Regions from separate parts of the Homo sapiens genome. Here regions 1, 2, 4, 5 and 6 are each reported to be linked to region 3. Evidence: microRNA targets listed by miRTarBase, many of them from high-throughput screens and not tested one by one. Region 3 holds a microRNA gene; each other region holds the end of a gene's coding sequence.
The links. The annotated mature microRNA hsa-miR-7108-3p reads ACCCGCCCGUCUCCCCACAG and lies in region 3 at 1,471-1,490, shown strand. An mRNA with a match to its seed (bases 2 to 7 or 8) in the 3' UTR can be bound and repressed. Matches are read on the target gene's strand: a 7mer-m8 pairs with bases 2 to 8, a 7mer-A1 pairs with bases 2 to 7 and ends in A, and an 8mer does both.

Region 1: the mRNA of VTA1 is a reported target of hsa-miR-7108-3p. The part of its 3' UTR that is shown has no 7-base or 8-base seed match.
Region 2: miRTarBase lists TSPAN9 as a target of hsa-miR-7108-3p. Seed matches in the 3' UTR shown: 7mer-m8 at 2,403-2,409.
Region 4: miRTarBase lists ZBTB25 as a target of hsa-miR-7108-3p. The part of its 3' UTR that is shown has no 7-base or 8-base seed match.
Region 5: the mRNA of PHF21B is a reported target of hsa-miR-7108-3p. Seed matches in the 3' UTR shown: 7mer-m8 at 1,964-1,970 and 7mer-m8 at 1,960-1,966.
Region 6: the mRNA of TOP6BL is a reported target of hsa-miR-7108-3p. Seed matches in the 3' UTR shown: 7mer-m8 at 487-493, 7mer-m8 at 492-498, 7mer-m8 at 497-503 and 7mer-m8 at 596-602.

Annotation. Positions count from the first base shown.
Region 1 is chr6:142,218,319-142,221,431 of GRCh38, forward strand. It overlaps VTA1 (vesicle trafficking 1), which reads left to right. Exons shown (of 8, transcript NM_016485.5): 8 at 180-3,113. The coding sequence ends at 325. Among named protein-coding and RNA genes, the nearest start is that of LINC02919, 40 kb to the right of the region's middle.
Region 2 is chr12:3,282,834-3,285,954 of GRCh38, reverse strand. It overlaps TSPAN9 (tetraspanin 9), which reads right to left. Exons shown (of 9, transcript NM_006675.5): 9 at 1-2,910. The coding sequence ends at 2,839. Among named protein-coding and RNA genes, the nearest start is that of LINC02827, 16 kb to the left of the region's middle. RefSeq lists enhancers at 728-1,228, 1,229-1,729.
Region 3 is chr19:2,433,404-2,436,403 of GRCh38, reverse strand. It overlaps MIR7108 (microRNA 7108), which reads left to right and starts at 1,404; the gene lies at 1,404-1,490. LMNB2 (lamin B2) reads left to right here. Exons shown (of 12, transcript NM_032737.4): 5 at 1,233-1,403; 6 at 1,491-1,616; 7 at 1,889-2,109; 8 at 2,299-2,578. RefSeq lists an enhancer at 2,132-2,820.
Region 4 is chr14:64,484,361-64,487,481 of GRCh38, forward strand. It overlaps ZBTB25 (zinc finger and BTB domain containing 25), which reads right to left. Exons shown (of 3, transcript NM_006977.5): 3 at 1-3,121. The coding sequence ends at 2,563. Among named protein-coding and RNA genes, the nearest start is that of ZBTB25, 18 kb to the right of the region's middle.
Region 5 is chr22:44,880,580-44,883,684 of GRCh38, forward strand. It overlaps PHF21B (PHD finger protein 21B), which reads right to left. Exons shown (of 13, transcript NM_138415.5): 13 at 583-2,725. The coding sequence ends at 2,507. Among named protein-coding and RNA genes, the nearest start is that of PHF21B, 130 kb to the right of the region's middle.
Region 6 is chr11:66,842,872-66,845,992 of GRCh38, forward strand. It overlaps TOP6BL (TOP6B like initiator of meiotic double strand breaks), which reads left to right. Exons shown (of 15, transcript NM_001302084.2): 14 at 1-198; 15 at 298-645. The coding sequence ends at 363. RCE1 (Ras converting CAAX endopeptidase 1) reads left to right here and starts at 570. Exons shown (of 8, transcript NM_005133.3): 1 at 570-769; 2 at 888-990; 3 at 1,085-1,168; 4 at 1,415-1,493; 5 at 1,998-2,165; 6 at 2,295-2,366; 7 at 2,629-2,691; 8 at 2,989-3,121. The coding sequence starts at 585. RefSeq lists silencers at 111-250, 361-800 and an enhancer at 441-1,147.

The DNA.
Region 1 (3,113 bases), not on the chromosome of region 3:
ATAAAAAGACAATTGAAAAGAATGAAGAAAATGTATCAAAGTTCATGTGAGATTGACTAAAACTACTGTTTTTACATAGCCTTAAATATGTTTTTTAATCTTAAGCATAAGCATTTGCCCAACCTTACAGAACACTTTTTATATTCTTATAAATATCCCAATTGTTCTTTTTCTTCTAGGGGATGTTCGTCTAACCCCAGAAGACTTTGCTAGAGCTCAGAAGTACTGCAAATATGCTGGCAGTGCTTTGCAGTATGAAGATGTAAGCACTGCTGTCCAGAATCTACAAAAGGCTCTCAAGTTACTGACGACAGGCAGAGAATGAAGCCTTTGTATGACAGACCCATGTATTTTTGGCATGAGGAACTAACAGTCCATTACTCTATCTTCAGCCTATCAGGATCACAGTTTTAAGGAAGACTTGGTTTTGTTGAATATGACAATGAAATCTGTGTGTATCAGATTTTTATTGAAGCATTCATCAGCAGCCTCAACCAGTTTTCATTGTCCATTTACTAGATTCAATCGTCTCTGAGTATATAGGGCTGATGTTAGCAAGACCCTAAAAATGTCCATTGAACCCTGCTTCAAAAAATGAAAACACACCTCTATAAAATGTGTACTGGGAATAAGCTTTGTATTTACATACATTAGGGGAATTTTTTAAAATCTGTAATGTTTGGACAAACAGATGATATTACTTTGCTATAAAATTATAAATGTAACTTTTAATAAAGATAGCCAGAATATTCTAAATTAGAAATTACGTTTTTGTTTCCCTCAAGACATAAAACAAATATAAACATTCTAAACTGCTGGATGAATCTGAAAAGACATTAAGTTCAAATTTTAATTTATTCTCATATTAAATATAACTCCATTAAAAGTTTAAAATTTCATGGGAGAAAATATAATAAGGTAAAGAGGTAGAATCACTTTCAGACTTAAGAATAATGTTGATTTCCCAAGTGCTTTACCTTATCTGTTAAAGCGTAAGATGAATTGGTATTTGCTTCATAGGCAGTTTGACTGCATGTATTAGAGAATGAAAAGAAGATATTTGTAGTAATGCCTGGAAACTTGGTGCTTTAAATTAAGGTACTCCTCTGCTGCTGTAGAATGGATTCCACACAGTGGATAGCTATGGGTGATTCAGAATATTATGTTTAGATTCCCATTTGTTAAGTTTATAAGTTTTGTGGGGAATTATGAACTTACTGTGTACTACCTGCATTTGTGCTGTGTGAAAAATAAATACAAGGATTCGTTTAGCTAATTCAACTTACTACAAAGACAAATGTCTGTTTTTATTTGCCTGCTAGGATTGTCTTTTTTAAAAGTCATTTTTATTTATAGGAATATGGGTGTTTCTATAGGAAGAAACAGGTTTTTTGTTTTTTGTTTTTTAAGATAAATTTGACAAAGTTAACTGAAATTTATCTGGTCCATTTTATTCATGCTACTAAGATGGGAATCTTTAAACACAAGGGTCAGCAAGCTTTGGCCCATGGATTGGCCACCTGTTACGTAAATAAAGTTTCTTTGAAACAAGCCTACACTCATTCATTTATGTTTTGTCTGTGGTTGCTTTCCACAACTGCAGAGTTGTATGGCTTGCAAGTCTAAAAACATTTACTATTTGGCCCTCTAAGAAAAAGTTAAGACACCTAGTCTAATGGCCTTTTGGGAAAAAACAAATCACTAACTCATAATCATTTATATCCATTATTTTCTGCATAAATGTAATGCTATTGTACAGGGTTTGGTAGAATAAATATTCAGACTGACTAAACTGTTCTAAATCCTCACAAAAAAGTCCCCAAACAACATGCCTCCTAAAAAACATTTTCCTATCTTTTACAAGAGGTATGAACATTTGTAGGGTTCCACATTTGCATCTAGAAATCCAATGCTCTTTAGAATGTTATTACGAATAGAAAGATGGCCAGGATGACCTTTAGTGTTACATGATGTTCAGCAAATTTTAATTCAAACCTTGATATGCCTGGACACTGAAAAGTAAACGCATCACCTCCTATTTTATACCCTACCTTCTGGTTCCCAATTGGGAGAGCACATAGAGGGAAGGAGACAATATAGAAACTACGGAGTCCGCTGGTAGTGGGCTGCATGGTGTGACAGAGCCCTTCTCTGTAAAATGGAAATGACACCACTAGCCATCTCAATAGTTACAAGAATTAAAAGAGATACAGTACCTGAAGTGCTTAGCGCATGGTAGCATTTCATAAATGTTTAGTGTCAATACTAATGCTCTAATAATGTAAATTGTTAATAATTTATTTCCCTAATATCAGGAAATCCCAGTTGTCTATGTGGCCCAGTGCTTAAAAACGCCTTCTTGCATGAGGGGATTGAACTATACAATGTTTGTTAACTTTGTATTTGTATTTTTTCCTATAAAATCTTAAAATAAAATTAGGAGATGTGTTCTGATGTAACAGTAGGATTAGCAATTTTCATTTATTCCTTCCATATATATTTACTGAATGGCTACTATATGCCTGGTATTGTTCTTTGAAAGCAGAAACAGCAGGAAAAAAAGTCCCTCCCTCATAGAGTTTACATTCTAAAAGGGAGGAAATAGATAATAAAATATACATTACATTTAATCAGTGGCTCTCCGAGTGTGATTAGAAATACAAATTTTGGGCCCCACCTGTCCTACCCAATCAGAAACTCTAGGGATGGGTCCCAGCCTTCTGAGTTTTAAGAGACACTTAAGGTGGTCCCTAAAGTTCGAGTGGTTTAGCTCTACCCAAATCAGAAATATTGCAAGTCTGAGAAAAGAGATTCTCCTCAAACCGGTTCTCAAAGGTGTCTCTGGACGACCGGCATCAGCATCACCTGCGAACTTGCTAGAAAGTTCTGGGGACCACACTATGGGAACTTCTGTATTAAATAGTGATAAATGCTATGGAGGAAACATTGAGGACAGGATAGGAGATGCTTAGGTGTGTACAGACATATGCATATTTCAATAGAATAGCCAGGATAGACCTCCCTGAGGTAACATTTGAGCAAAGAAGGAAAAGAGTAACTAGTATGCAGATACATACATGGAGGAAGAGCATTCCCAACAGGTAGACAGAAAT
Region 2 (3,121 bases), not on the chromosome of region 3:
GACACGGCTCAAGCTGGGGGAGGGGTGCAGGGGGAGACTTGCACCGTGACACCTGCTTCCACCACCCAAGAGCAGTTCTCAGCCTGTGCCCGCTCACCCCCACTGCAGGATGGCTGCAGAGAAAGGCTGAGTCTGCAGCGGATGCCCCCCTGCAGTCCTCTACAAACCCTGAGGGACTTTCTGAGACAAGTGTGTAAATTGCTCACATCAGACCTGATTGAACTGACTCTGGCAAAGGGAGCCGTGAGTGAGGGAATTCTCTCAGGGGAATTCTACCCCAGTGAGATCACAGTCAGGAGAAACTGAAGAGAGGCTGTGCCACCTTCACTGGCATCGCTGGGTGTGGCCCTCTGAGTGGAAGGGGCTCGAAGGAACACCCACTCTGTGCACACAGACTTCCGCCCAATGTAGACTAAGCCAAATAACAAAACGGCCAAGCGCAGAGTGAGTAAAGAAGGCAGCGTGGGGACCTGTAGATGAGGCTCTGCAAACAGACGGATGAGGTGGGGGCTGGTGGGAGCACTGTGGCAAAGGCTCTGGGGCCAGAGGCCACCCCTGAAGTACTCCAGAAACAGAAAAGATTTTCAGGGAGGTTGCACATCTCCCAATGCACTAGGCTTTTGCTGTTGATATTAACAAAAATTAAAAATTGCATTGATAGGCATAAACCAACCCACCCACCCCACCCACAGCAAAAAACGCACGAGGCCCCGGGTCCCACCGTGCAACTGCAGCACTTGTCTGCTGAGTCTCTCCGCCCGGATGTGTCTGCTCCGGAATCTGCACTTTGGGGGTTCCTGCGGAGGCGGCTGAAACTCCTTACCAGGAAGCCAGGCCAGGGGACAAGGGCAGGGCAGCTTTGCTCAAATGTGGGCCTCCCCCACATTCCATCAGCACCACTGCCCCTGTCTCAGGGAAGCGGTCTTCACCCTGCACAACTCACAAGACCACCCTACTCTCCACTCCCACCCCCACAAAACACGAATCCTGATAATGCCAACGGTTCTGTCCTCCTGTTCCCGATTTGTGTGTTACTTAAGGTGAACAGAGGAGTGACTGGTGCTGGGTGGCCGTGTCTCAGCTCTTGGATCAGACAGGCAGGTGGAGGCTGGAGAAGAGACCTGGCCCCAGTGGGAAACCAGGGTGACAAGACAAACTGTATAGGAAAGGCAGCCGCCCACCAAGGCCCCACCTGATCAAGTGCAGCAGACGCTGGCTAGCGGGTGAGGTCCCCGTGCTCAGTCCCACGGATTCGCGACCTTTTTGAACGGCAAAACAGTAAGCCAGACCAGCTGCAGTTTGGAGGGGGCGCCCTGCTGCAGCTGAATCCCACTCCTGGCCTCACTCCCCAGCCCGTTTCTCTCCCATGCCCAGCTCTGCACGTGCGTGACTCCGGCTGCTTTCTTCCCGTGGCTCCGGTAACAAGAGCCAGTCTGACCTCTCTTGGGTTTTCTGTATTTCTTCTCCTTGGGATCACAGATGATATAATCGCCACCCAACCCACTGCTGATGTCCGTGGCCCCAGGGAAGGAGGCGAAGATCTTGGGACCCAGGTGGACGTGATTCCCTCCTTCCCAGCAGGGCAACCCACAGCTGAGCAAGGCTGGCGGGGAGGACCGTGGGTCCTCACCCCTGTGGGTCCCCTGCCACTGTCCCAGCACAGCAAAACCTAAGGACTGCTTCCCCTTCCAGAAGCAAGGGGGAAAGTGAGCAGCATCCGAACTAGAGAGGTATTTGTCTGACAGTTTCTAGCAGGAATGTCTGTGAAATAACTGGGGTGTGCAGAACCTGTTGTGGGAATACCCACATGGGGTGGAAGGGGAAGCCTCGCGTGCCAGCAGAGAGCGGGAGGAAGGGAGAAAGAAAAAACCAACAACTGCTCATCAGTGAAAAGTCTAAGGACCCCTCTAGCTCTGCCACAGCACCGTGGGGCCCCCCTGCCCTGGCATTTCCAGCTCGATTGGTTAGCAAACGCCACCTCCCGTGCAGGGGCACCTCCAGCCTGCTTCACGCTCCACCCGCCTCTCCCAGGCTCCTGTCCTCAGACACCAGGCCTGGCAAGGTCCCGTGTCCTGTCCACGCCCCCTCCTTCCCACACGTTCTGAGGGCGCAGGCGCGCCCCATCCGAGAGCCTCCTGGGTGTCGCACGGTGGTCTGTCCTGATTGAGACTGGACAGATGTCCTCTCTTCCCACCCATCCCTCACCCTCAGGGAAAAAAAGTCAAACCATTAAAGAAATCAACACAGTAAAAAGTTACAAATCAGAAATCTAACCCTAAACTTATCTGAGAGATAATATTCCTGAATAATCATAGAGTAAAATAAAATAAAAAAGTTACATTGTAAGGTATAAAAAGCCTGGGCGAGATGCTCCAGGGGCCTTGCCCAGAGGCCGGCAGACCCCCGCCCCGCCAGGTGCCCCATGGTGGCCATGGATGTCGCAGCCCCCGCTGGGGCGGTATCTCCACGGGGCGGGCACTCTGCTCCCCACCCCATGTGGGGACAAAGTGTCAGTGTGAGGAAGGGCAGGGGCAGAAGCCCATCAGTGCCGGGGGTTCCTCCGGAGCGCACCCCAGCCCACCCTGTCGTCTTTGGCAAATACGCATATGCAGATGCAGGAATCCAGGGGCCCCGAGCCCCAGGTCTCCGTGTGCCTCCTCCTCCCTGGCACTCCACCCACTGAGAAGTCCGAGGCTGAGGCAGGGTAGGTGGGGTAGGGCAGGCTGTGGGGGGTGGGTGCAGGGGTCATATCTGGAGAGCGCAGGCAGGTGACACAAAGCTCAATCCTCTTCCCTCCACAGGGCAGCAGGGCGGGGTGGGCACTCCCGGCCAGCCCGCTCATGCGTCGTACTTCTTACCAGTCCGGTGGATGTGCTGGAAGAGGGTCATGGAGAAGGCCATGCCCAGGATCTGAAAGACACGGGGAGGGGCCTGAGGCAGGAGCTGCAGCAGCCTGGACCTGACCTCAGCCCCGAGAGGCTTGGGATGTCACAGGGCACCTAGAGCAAGCGGGGATGGCCACTGGTGTGCCAGGAAAATGCTTATGGAATGAAGACATGAAGAAAACCGTGAACAGAGGTCACCCTGGAGACACACACAGGTGAACTCTGGCTCAGCCTCG
Region 3 (3,000 bases):
TTGTTTTGTTTTGTTTTGTTTTTGAGATGGAGTCTTGCTCTGTTGCCCACACTGGGCCCAGCCTCCCGAGTAGCTGGGATTATAGGTGCACAGCACCACACCCAGCTAATTTTTTTCTTTTGAGACGGAGTCTTGCTCTGTCACCCAGGCTGGAGTACGGTGGCATGATCTCAGCTCACTGCAACCTCCGCCTCCTGGGTTCAAGCGATTCTCCTGCCTCAGCCTCCTGAGTAGCTGGGATTATAGGCGGGTGCCACCAACCCGACTAATTTTTGTATTTTTAGTACAGACGGGGTTTTCACCATGTTTGTCAGGCTGGTCTTGAACTTCTGACCTCATGATCCACCTGTCTTAGCCTCCCAAAGTGCTGGGATTACAGGCTTGAGCCACTGTGCCCGGCCTAATTTTTGTATTTTTAATAGAGATGGGGTTTCACCATGTTGGCTAGGCTGGTCTCGAACTCCTGACCTCGTGATCTGCCTGCCTCAGCCTCCCAAAGTGCTGGGATTACAGGCATGAGCCACCACGCCTGGCCCGCTTTCTTCAATAATGGCTTTTATAAGAGAGAGTCACTTTTTTTTTTTTTGAGACGCAGTCTCACTTTGTTACCCAGGTTGGAGTGCAATGGTGCGATCCTGGCTCACTGCAACCTCCCAAGGTCAAGCGATTCTCTTGTCTCAGCCTCCTGAGTAGCTGGGACCACAGGTGCCCGCCACCACACCTGGCTATTTTAAGTCCACCTTTTTAAAGTGTACAGTTCAGCATTGGCAGGATCTCCACAGGGTTGTGCAACCACCACCTCTAATTCTAGAACATTCCATCACCCAAAAAGAACCCCCTCCCCATCAGCAGTCCCCAGCCCTGGCCCCCACGCATCCCCTCCCTGTCTCTGTGGATGGGCCTGTCCTGGACATTTCAGGACATTTCATGGAAATGGGATCACGCACCGTGTGGCCTTTTGTGTCTGGCGTCTCTCATTGAGTGTGACGTCCTCAAGGTGCATCCATGCTGTGGCGGTGTCAGAGCCTCGCTCCTTTTCGTGGCTGAGTCACGTTCTAGCGCGTGGACGGCCCCTGGGTCGCCTCTCACCTGCACGTGTATCGGTTTGTAACTTGTGCACAAGGAACCAGGAATTGCCTGGAGGTTCCTCTTGGCACATTTTTGAGCCCTCCCTTGGGCCTGGTGCTTGGGGCCCAGGCGGGACCAGAGGGTCACGAAGCCTTGGTCCGCAGGAGGTGCGGGAGACGCGGCGGCGGCACGAGCGGCGCCTGGTGGAGGTGGACAGCAGCCGGCAGCAGGAGTACGACTTCAAGATGGCACAGGCGCTGGAGGAGCTGCGGAGCCAGCACGACGAGCAAGTGCGGCTCTACAAGCTGGAGCTGGAGCAGACCTACCAGGCCAAGGTGTGGCCGGCAGGCGGGTGGGCGGGGGCGGCCGGTGGGAACCCCGCCCCGCCCCGCGCCCGCACTCACCCGCCCGTCTCCCCACAGCTGGACAGCGCCAAGCTGAGCTCTGACCAGAACGACAAGGCGGCCAGTGCGGCTCGCGAGGAGCTGAAGGAGGCCCGCATGCGCCTGGAGTCCCTCAGCTACCAGCTCTCCGGCCTCCAGAAGCAGGTGATGAGCACAGCGCCACCGTCTGCCGTCCCCCTGGCCCAACTTCTGGGCCCTGCCCTGGATGTGCGGGGCGTGGGGCTCTGGCCTCTTGGCATCGGATGCAGCCCTCGGGGCGCCCAGCGATGCCCCTTCCCTCCCCTCCCGTGCGCCCCATGCCCAGGCCTGGTCTCTGCCCCAGTCTGTGGTGAGGGCCCATCTCCCGCAGTCCCAGGATCACCTGGGCCTTGTGACCCATGGGCTGCCCTGACCTTCGCCACCCGCCCCCTCCGCAGGCCAGTGCCGCTGAAGATCGCATTCGGGAGCTGGAGGAGGCCATGGCCGGGGAGCGGGACAAGTTCCGGAAGATGCTGGACGCCAAGGAGCAGGAGATGACGGAGATGCGGGACGTGATGCAGCAGCAGCTGGCCGAGTACCAGGAGCTGCTGGACGTGAAGCTGGCCCTGGACATGGAGATCAACGCCTACCGGAAGCTCCTGGAGGGCGAGGAGGAGAGGTGCGGCAGGCCAGGAGGCTTGGGAGCACAGAGTGAGGAGGAGGGGCAGGGCAGGAGGAGAGGCGGGACGGGGCTGCGGGGAGTGCTGGGCAGGGGTGGAGGTGGGGCCGGGCCGTGGCCGCCACTCTGCGTGCCCTGGGCTGTCTGGGGCTCCCACTACCAGTCCCACCTTCCTTGCCTTCCCCACAGGCTGAAGCTGTCCCCCAGCCCATCCTCGCGCGTCACCGTCTCACGAGCCACCTCGAGCAGCAGCGGCAGCTTGTCCGCCACCGGGCGCCTGGGCCGCAGTAAGCGGAAGCGGCTGGAGGTGGAGGAGCCCTTGGGCAGCGGCCCAAGCGTCCTGGGCACGGGCACGGGTGGCAGCGGTGGCTTCCACCTGGCCCAGCAGGCCTCGGCCTCGGGTAGCGTCAGCATCGAGGAGATCGACCTGGAGGGCAAGTTTGTGCAGCTCAAGAACAACTCGGACAAGGTGACCGGAAAGACCGGGGCATGGGGGTAACGGGGTGACCCAGCTGATGGGGGTGACCAGGGTCAGGGTGACGGGGCTGCCGGCCAATGCGAGGCAGGGGACAAGGTGACCGGAATGACCGGGGCATGGGGGTAACGGGGTGACCCAGCTGATGGGGGTGATCAGGGTCAGGGTGACGGGGCCGCCGGCCAATACGAGGCAGGGGACAAGGTGACCGGAATGACCGGGGCATGGGGGTAACGGGGTGACCCAGCTGATGGGGGTGACCAGGGTCAGGGTGACGGGGCCGTCGGCCAATGCGAGGCAGGGGACAAGGTGACCGGAATGACCGGGGCATGGGGGTAACGGGGTGACCCAGCTGATGGGGGTGACCAGGGTCAGGGTGACGGGGCTGTCGGCCAATGCGAGGCAGGGGACAAGGT
Region 4 (3,121 bases), not on the chromosome of region 3:
CTATATACAAGGATTTCCTGTGTCAAAGAATAATGAGTGGGCCTGGCACGGTGGCTCACACCTGTAATCCCAGCACTATGGGAGGCCGAGGCTGGTGCATGACCTGAGGTCAGGAGTTCCAGACCAGCCTGACCAAGATGGTGAAACCCTGTCTCTGCTAAAAACACAAAATTAGCTGGGTATGGTGGTGCATGCCTGTAATCCCAAGCTACTTGGGAGGCTAAGGCAGGAGAATCGCTTGAACCCAGGCAGCAGAGATTGCAGTGAGCCGAGATCACGCCATTGCACTCCAGCCTGGGCAACAAGGGTGAAACTCCATCTTAAAAAAAAATTAAATTAAAAAAATAATAATAATGAGTAGGCAAACAGGGAAGAATATAGAGGAGAAAAATTATCTTAATAAGAACAATAGAATTTGAATTGAAGAAGGCTAGGAAATATATCTTAACTAGCCTAAAATACAAAAAATCAATGTTAATACTTGTGTTCTTCCAATGAGATGATATTTTTGAGGGCAGTACAAATTTCAATAGTTGCTTAAGTGAATTGGTAGAAAAAAGTTTAAGATTAGACAAAGTTCTGACCCCAAAGAACATACATTTGTTTTAATTACTCCCAATACAATTGATCTTATCAAGTTAGATGTGCTCTCAACACACATCAGTCTTAACCATAGGAGCCTTTACTCACTTGTTTAAGGCAGAAACTCAACTGCCTTACACAATATCCAGTAGCTTTCTTCATTCAATCCTCAAGAAAAACTTACCACTTTGTAATTTACCTAAACTGTTTACCTAGAGAAAACCTTTGTGTCCTTAGAATTAGCTGGATTACTCTTTGAGCTCCCTCCTGATTGGACGCTGATGCTGTTGAATGTGTCAGGAAACGTCCTCAGAAGTGGAGGGAGCTCAAGAGTTTTGTAAGTGGTTAAATTCTAAGGCTCACAAACCAAATTTTTTAGATGTATTCAAATGCCCGTGAAGCTTAGAATTTAACAAGAGGGCAAAAAAAGATGAGTCTGTTTTATTATCCTTGACTATGCGGGGTTTGAAATTTAAACATTTCAGAAACAATTTAGATCTATCCTTTGTGGTGAAGCTTAACCAGCTATTTCCCAGGTATATAGAGCCGGGGAATCTGTTATTTCTTTCATCAACTTTAATTTTCCTGGGGTTTTAGCTTTGTAAGTGTCACCATTATAAAAGAGAGTTAAGTTGATTTATAGAGGAAAAGCTAACATCATGGATCTTAAATGTAGTTATAGAACACTGAATGTATCCACTTTGCTGGTTTTATGGATCAGGAAAAAAGTGAAAACTGTGCCACTGAAAAATTACTTTTTCAGTGATTTTTAGAAAATTAAAATCAACCCAGGAAGCCCCAAAAATCCTGACGCTGAGGGTAGAAACATGATTTATATTTTATCATCATTCTCTTTCAACTCATGTAAACCTCTGGTCATAAAATCTCAAATTACTTTTTAAGGTGTCTAAGAAAACACTCTAGACCAAGTTAACAACCCTGGGGTTTTTAGTCAATGCAGTTCTAGCTCAGTCTCTGTCTCTGCATGCTTATTTATCTATGTGTGTATATCTTACTGTTTCTTAAATATTTTTTAATGTCTCTCTGACTCTTCTCCCTTTAACTGTTTTTTTTATTAAAAATGAGATATACCACATCTGTAATCCCAGCACTTTGGGAGGCCAAGGCGGGCAGATGACGAGGTCAGGAGATCGAGACCATCCTGGCTAACACGGTGAAACCCCGTCTCTACTAAAAAAATACAAAAAAATTAGCTGGGCGTGGTGGCGGGCGCCTGTAGTCCCAGCTGCTCAGGAGGCTGAGGCAGGAGAATGGCGTGAACCCGGGAGGCGGAGCTTGCAGTCAGCCGAGATCGCGCCACTGCGCCCCAGCCTGGGCGACACAGAGAGACTCTGTCTCAAAAAAAAAAAGAGGTATACTCAATGTTAAAAAGTAAAGAGAAGCCATGTAGGTAAGATGTTGTGGAGCTAGTAGTTAAAAAATAAAACTACTCATGATTTGGTATATCTTAAAATAAATTTTTATACATTATAACATATGTATAACATACAGTTATGCATTAAAGTAACTATTAATTTCCTATATGGAAGAAAATATTTAAAAATAATCCTGGTAGGAGTGAATTCATGTGAAATGTAGGCAGAAGTGATAGTTTAGAATATGCTTTAAAACAGATTTCATTTACTTTATATTCAATTTGATTTTACTGATTCTATAACTGGAAAAACTTAGAATTCTATAAATAACTATTTAAGGTTTCCATATTTCTACATTGATTTCTGATTTCTAAATTGTTATTTCGTTTGTGAAAAGTTCACAGTAGTAATTGAATGTTACATTTTAATAGCCACATATTAATATGTCTTATGAGAAGATCTAATATATACAACCTTAAAACCATGGATAAGCTGTGAAGAAAAAAAGTCAATGAAACTTGAGGAGGAAAATAATTTATGAATTAAAAATGCCACGCAAATTTTCTTTTTCAGAATTGGTATAAAAATTCTGAAAGAGAAGCTGCTACTCAACTAGGATAGTATCCACATTTTCTTGTGTGAGCTCTGACTCTAAGGCACAAGGCAAGTCTAAGTGTTCTTGTGACAAGCGAGAACTTTTCAGGGAGACATCAGACCAGCTGTCACAGTATGGCTGAAATCTCTGGGCCAATGCATTACCAAACCTTTGGCATCGGTTATATCTGTAAGATTTACCTTTGTGTGTATACATGTGTTCCAACAATTGGCTCTTTCGAGGGAATTTATGACCACAGATGGTACAGCTCATTTTTCTTTTCCTTGAAAAAGAAAAATTACAGTTTAATTCTACTGGCTCTGTGTCTTTGGAGATCAAAGATACTTGACTGATCTGCAAAGGCTCTGTGGTACCCCGGTTGGTGTGGTCTGGCTGCTGTTCATTCTCCTTAACAATGAAGGAGCTGAGCCTGCGGCATTCAAGGGCCTCGCTGTTTTCATTAAGGGGATGCACTTCACCAAGGTCATTACTTTCCAGAATGGAAGCAGGGACACCGAATGGCAGGGATCCAGACACATGTGTATGGAGATGTTGCCTTAGGTTACTA
Region 5 (3,105 bases), not on the chromosome of region 3:
GACTGTGTGGCAGCCCTGCATGCCCTCCACCTCTCTGTCCCCTGGGGCACCGGACCCCACTTTGGCATTAGACCCCAGCCTCTGGCCACAGCTAACTGCCCAGGGGTCGGCCCCGACCCACTTGGCCAATCAGAGTCCCCCGTGCAATGCCAGGAGCTAGGACTCAGGGGGGCTGATTCCCCACCTCTTGTAGGGCAAGGTGTAAGCTCAGCGTGGCTGCAGGAGCGCCTGTACCCGCTGCTGGGGGAGAGAGACAGCGGTGATGTTGCCAGGCTGAGAGGCAGGAACCCATGAGGGAGCAGAGGGCACCACCTTGGGCTCTGCACAGTGACAGACCTGCTGGGTTTCCAAGACTTTCCACCCTCAATCCTAGCCCTAAAGGGTCACCCGCCGCCTCTGAGGACTGGGAATCGGGGGTGAGTGAGTGGAGGGCACTGAGCTCTCTCCCTGTTTCCCTCCCTCCATCCCTCCCTCCTCAGGATGGGAGAAGACCCTGATTTCCAGCCCCTCCAACGCCCACCTGGCTGCCCTGGGCACTCCCGGGGGCCTCTCCGCAACGCAAGGACACCAAAACCACAGGGCTTTGAAATCATCGATCGAGTTTAATACATTGTAAAGAAGGAAAACTACATTGGCGTATTTAAGACAAACACTTTTTCTCTATCCTCACTACCCACTGGACGGTCCTCCTTGGTCCAAAAAAAACCTAACAATCTCAAGACACATCGGCAGCTACCCCTCCCGGGTCCAACCTTTCAGATCCTCCCATTACACTGTTAAAACATGTAACTCAATCCATCCGCGAAGAAAACCAAACCAACAGAAAAGGAAGCTGAAGACATGGACATCGCAAGCCACGCGGTAATGCATACTTGGCACAGAGTAGCCAATATAGAAGACGTGTGCCTCACACGGTTCACTTTGTTCATCAATAAAAGAATATAAAAATCTTGTTCACCCAGTGGTAAGTGTATTAAAATAGATCTGTATCATACAGCACAGTTTCTCCCGGAGTCGTGAGAATGACAGGAGGGACCGTGGCAGCTGCGGGATTTGCCGGCCTCCTCGCTCTGCACCTCTGCGTGTGTGCATGCGTGTCTGTGGTCGTGGCCGCGTGCGATGCACACACGCGTGTTCAGTGCAATTCGGCACCATGTGATATGCTCGGGGTGGGAGCCCGTGGCTCCTGGACGCTTATCCTGTTGTGCTGAGTCCCTCAGGACTGGGATGTGGGAATCGGGCAAGGGTGACAAGCTGCCACTGCCCACCCTGGATGCAGAAGCCCTTGGCAGCAAGTCTGGTCCCCGAAGGCCGGAACCTCCCGAGCCACCGCCCTTTCTTTCCTCCCCAACCCTCCACCCGGCTCGTAAAAAACCTGCCGGATCTTCCAGCTTGGCCAGGCTTCCCGAGGGGAGGTGTTCCCATTTGTACCTTGAAGCAGAGACTACTAGAAGCAGAAAGGAAGTCAGCCAGAGTCCCCCCAACCATTCACATTAAATATCTCACAATAAAAACGCCATACAAAAGTGTGAAGTTATTTTTTGGCATAGTGTCTGCACTGGCAAGAAGGGAGGAGTGGAATACTTATCGGCTCTTCCAAAGGAGACAAGAAAGGGCTTCAGTCGTTAAGTTGAATGATTCAACCCCAAGGAGAAAACCTGCCAAATGCTGCCCCCCACAACAGGGTTGCAGCTCCACTCTGCCCAGAAACTCCATGAGAAAAACGCATCAACGGCAAACTGAGTCCAAGAGATTGGCAAAAGGAAGGAGGCAGCCTTGAGGACCCCAAAGACGGAGCAGGAAGGGCACAGGCTCTGGCGGGGATCACTGCAGCGTCCCGGCGCCCAGATGCTCACCTCCGACAGTGTCTTTCAAGTTAAACAGCTGCAATTCGTAACCCTAATAATACTGACAGAAAGGGGCCCAGGTGGTTCTGCAAAGGCGACGGAGTGCCCCAGGCCCGCCCGCCCACCCCAGGGGGACCTCCTAGGAGCGTGGGGCATTGAGGAACTACCTAGATCCACTACCCCGCTTCTCGTCCCAACTACCGCTACCACTCAGCTAGTCCATGTGTTCTCAGCTCGCCCTCCCACAGGACACCAATAGGCGGTGCCCTCAGTGGAGACTGCGTTCTGGGGGGCGTGCTTGTCCCCTCCACAGCCTCAGCCTGCCCCTCCAACGGGCCAGAGGGAGGCCGTGGAGAGCAGGGCCTGGAAGCCAGAGGCCCAGGCAGCCCCGAGGTGGCCGGGGGGAGACTGTGTGCCCCAGCCTGTCGTACCCCACCTGGCTCCTAGGTACCCCCTGTGAATTTGGAGGGCACAGGGCCGCACCCCCACCTGGTCCTGGCTCTAGGCCTCTCGCCCAGCTCTTCCTCCCTCCTCTCCTCTGTCTGGTTAATTTTTGTCTGAAATTCATAGTGTTTATGAATTAAGGCCGACAGAACCCCCAGGCTGTGTAAGCAGGGTCCCAATAACTTTCCGTGGGTATGAAGACTGGTCCCTCGGGGTCAGTTGTGGCCCTGGGGGTGCTGGACGGTGGGGTGTGTGGCTGCCACTGAGGGCTTGGTCCAGGGCCCGGCCAGCAGTGGGGCAGGGCTAGTGGTCGTCATGGTGACCTGGAGCAGCTGCTCGCCCTGTATCAGTCTCAGGAGGGCCCGCAGGCGGTCCAGGGATGACTGGGTGCCCCTCTGGCGGGCCAGCAGGCTTGTCTTCAACTCCAGGCATTTCTGTTGGGGAGAAGGTCAGGGGAAAGGGTCTCAGTATTCGGCTCTACAGCCATCCTGGGGCAGCCACCGTCTGGGCCCCTCTCCCCTCCACTACAAAGGCCTACAAGAAACCAGGCTGAGGGCTTCACAAAAACCAGGCAGTGGTGCAAATGCAATTAAAGAGCAGCCAGACCCACAGGAGATGATGCTCGCTTTGGAACTTAGGGCTAGAAAAAGTGTGGCTCTGCCTGGGAACGTCCTTCCCATGGCTGTGATGTGACCTCCTCCTCCCCGCTAGCTGCCCACACTCTTCCTCCTCCTCCTGCTGGCCAAACTGCAGCAGCCTCGGAGGCCTTTGGCTTCCCAGTCGCCTTTCTGCTCTTTCTCTCGCCTGTTGTGCT
Region 6 (3,121 bases), not on the chromosome of region 3:
AAGAGGCTCAAGAGGGGCAGCCCCCGCATAGAGGAGATGCGAGCTCTGCGCTCTGCCAGGGCCCCGAGCCCGTCAGAGGCCGCCCCGCGCCGCCCGGAAGCCACCGCGGCCCCCCTCACTCCTAGAGGAAGGGAGCACCGCGAGGCTCACGGCAGGGCCCTGGCGCCGGGCAGGGCGAGCCTCGGAAGCCGCCTGGAGGTAACTGGGCGAGGGCCGCGCAGGGAAGGGCTCAGCAGGAGGTGCAGGCCACGGGCCGCTGCTGAGAGGTCCTCACCCCGGGCCCCCTTGTTCCCGCAGGACGTGCTGTGGCTGCAGGAGGTCTCCAACCTGTCAGAGTGGCTGAGTCCCAGCCCTGGGCCCTGAGCCGGGTCCCCTTCCGCAAGCGCCCACCGATCCGGAGGCTGCGGGCAGCCGTTATCCCGTGGTTTAATAAAGCTGCCGCGCGCTCACCAAGTCCTCTTCCGCGTCTGCTTCCGCGTCGGGCCCGGGCGGGGCGGGGCGGGGCGTGGAGCCGCGCCGCGGCCTGACGTCACCCACACCTCCCTGGGACTGCGTCACTGGTGCGCGCCGCGGGTCAGGGCGCAATGGCGGCGCTGGGCGGGGATGGGCTGCGACTGCTGTCGGTGTCGCGGCCGGAGCGGCCGCCCGAGTCGGCGGCGCTGGGCGGCCTGGGCCCCGGGCTGTGCTGCTGGGTGTCAGTGTTCTCCTGCCTCAGCCTCGCCTGCTCCTACGTGGGCAGCCTCTACGTCTGGAAGAGCGAACTGCCCAGGTGCGGGGGCTGCGCGCGACCGGAATCCGCGCCCTGCGGGCGGAGCTTGGGCGAGCCGGGGGCGGGTCCGTGCTCATGGGCAGCCGCGGGCCCCCTGAACTTACTGTCCCCTCCGTAGGGACCATCCCGCGGTCATCAAGCGACGCTTCACCAGCGTCCTGGTGGTGTCCAGTCTCTCACCCCTGTGCGTGCTGCTCTGGAGGGAACTCACAGGCATCCAGGTGCGAAGGAGGCGGGGCAAAGGGCAACGGCGGTGAGAGCTCAGGGGTCTTTAGGGGAGGAAGCAAAACTGATGCCCCCTTTCCTGTGGCTCAGCCAGGCACATCCCTGCTCACCCTGATGGGCTTCAGGCTGGAGGGCATTTTCCCAGCGGCGCTGCTGCCCCTGTTGCTGACCATGGTGAGTGCTCCTGCTGTATTTTTTCTTCTGGTCTTTGTTATCAGCCTGATGGGCAGTGCCGTGGACTCTTGTTTTTGGTTTTTGGTTGATGGGAGACAGGACTTTTGAGATGGCCCCAGGGTCCTCCGGTATGCATGGTCTGGAAATCGTGGCTGGAGAGGATTTCAAGCTTGGAGTCTCAGGGAGCATGGGCAAAGGTCTGGGCAAAAGCGGTGGGTTATGGTGAAAGTGTTTTCTTGCCCTCAGATTCTTTTCCTGGGCCCACTGATGCAGCTCTCTATGGATTGCCCTTGTGACCTGGCAGATGGGCTGAAGGTTGTCCTGGGTGAGTCTTAAAGGCTGAAGGGAAAAGTAGGCACAGGCAGTCCAGGACATTGGGGCAGGGAGTCAGCGGGCTCAGGGTGTGATCTGGACACGTGAAATGTCATCTCTCTGGGTGTGTTTTCTCATCAGTAAAATGGAAACATAGAGCTAGGTGGCCTCTAAGGGTTGATTGCCAACGTCCAAGGAGTTCCCTGGGAACCCCCAGCAGTATTTGGTGTGGATCAGAGAGCACTGTCCCCTGCTTCCCCAACCAGAGCTAGTCTTGCTTAAATTTTGGTGTCTCCAGAGTTTACTTCCAGGATGCCCTTGCCTCAGCTAATGCCTTCCATTCAGGTCATCTCAAGACATTGGGTTTATGTTGGGTCCACACCCCCGTCCTCAGCAGTATTGATGCCTAACCTGAGTTTGGCCAGGGTAAAGTTGTGGGAGAGGAGCCCTTGGAGCCTCTGGGGTCTCACTGTCTGACAGCCCGTCACTCACAGCTTGTCCTGAATTCCCTCTGCAGCCCCCCGCTCCTGGGCCCGCTGCCTCACAGACATGCGTTGGCTGCGGAACCAAGTGATCGCCCCGCTGACAGAGGAGCTGGTGTTCCGGGCCTGTATGCTGCCCATGTTAGCACCGTGCATGGGCCTGGGCCCTGCTGTGTTCACCTGCCCGCTCTTTTTTGGAGTTGGTGAGTCTGGCCAGATTAGTCCTGGTGTGTTTTCAGCATGAGAGCTCAGAAGGGGGCTTGAGGTGAGGGGCAGTCCTAGAAGGGAGGCTGGGAGGAATGACTGTGATGTGATTGTCACCTTTTTCCCAGCCCATTTTCACCATATTATTGAGCAGCTGCGTTTCCGCCAGAGCAGCGTGGGGAACATCTTCTTGTCTGCTGGTGAGTCCTGGCTAGCTGGCCTGGGTTAGGGTGTATGATGATGTCGCTAATGGCCACTCTGGAGAAGGAATTGGGAACTGAGGGCCACAGTATTGGAGAGGCCACTGACCGTGGGAAGTTGGGGTGCAGGACAGCTGTAGGTGGTGGGGCAGGCAGCTACTGCCCCGGGGGGAGGGGATGGTCGGTCTTTGGCTGATGGGTATGTAGTGTGGGGGCAGGAAGGGCGTGCAGGTGTGGTCACTCGTGGCCTCCCCGTCTCCAGCGTTCCAGTTCTCCTACACAGCTGTCTTCGGTGCCTACACTGCTTTCCTCTTCATCCGCACAGGTTGGTCCTCAGTCCCTCATGGGTCCCTGGGGGCCCACAGGAGCGGGTGGGAGAATGGGAATACTGTTTGTTCTAGGAACAAAAGTTCTTCTACTCCAGTCCTTGAGACAGGCTGAGCCAGAGCCCTCAGCCTGGTGAGGTCTGAGAGGTGGAAAGGAGCAGAGGCCGTGGTGTGTGGGTGGATGGCTGGGGTAGTGGGATCTTGATCTCCTGTTTCAGGGGATGAGGGTCACTAGCCCTGGAAGGGCCAGAGGAGGTGGTAGGGCTGCTCCCTGAGCTGCTGTCTCTTTTCCCCAGGACACCTGATTGGGCCGGTTCTCTGCCATTCCTTCTGCAATTACATGGGTTTCCCAGCTGTTTGCGCGGCCTTGGAGCACCCACAGAGGCGGCCCCTGCTGGCAGGCTATGCCCTGGGTGTGGGACTCTTCCT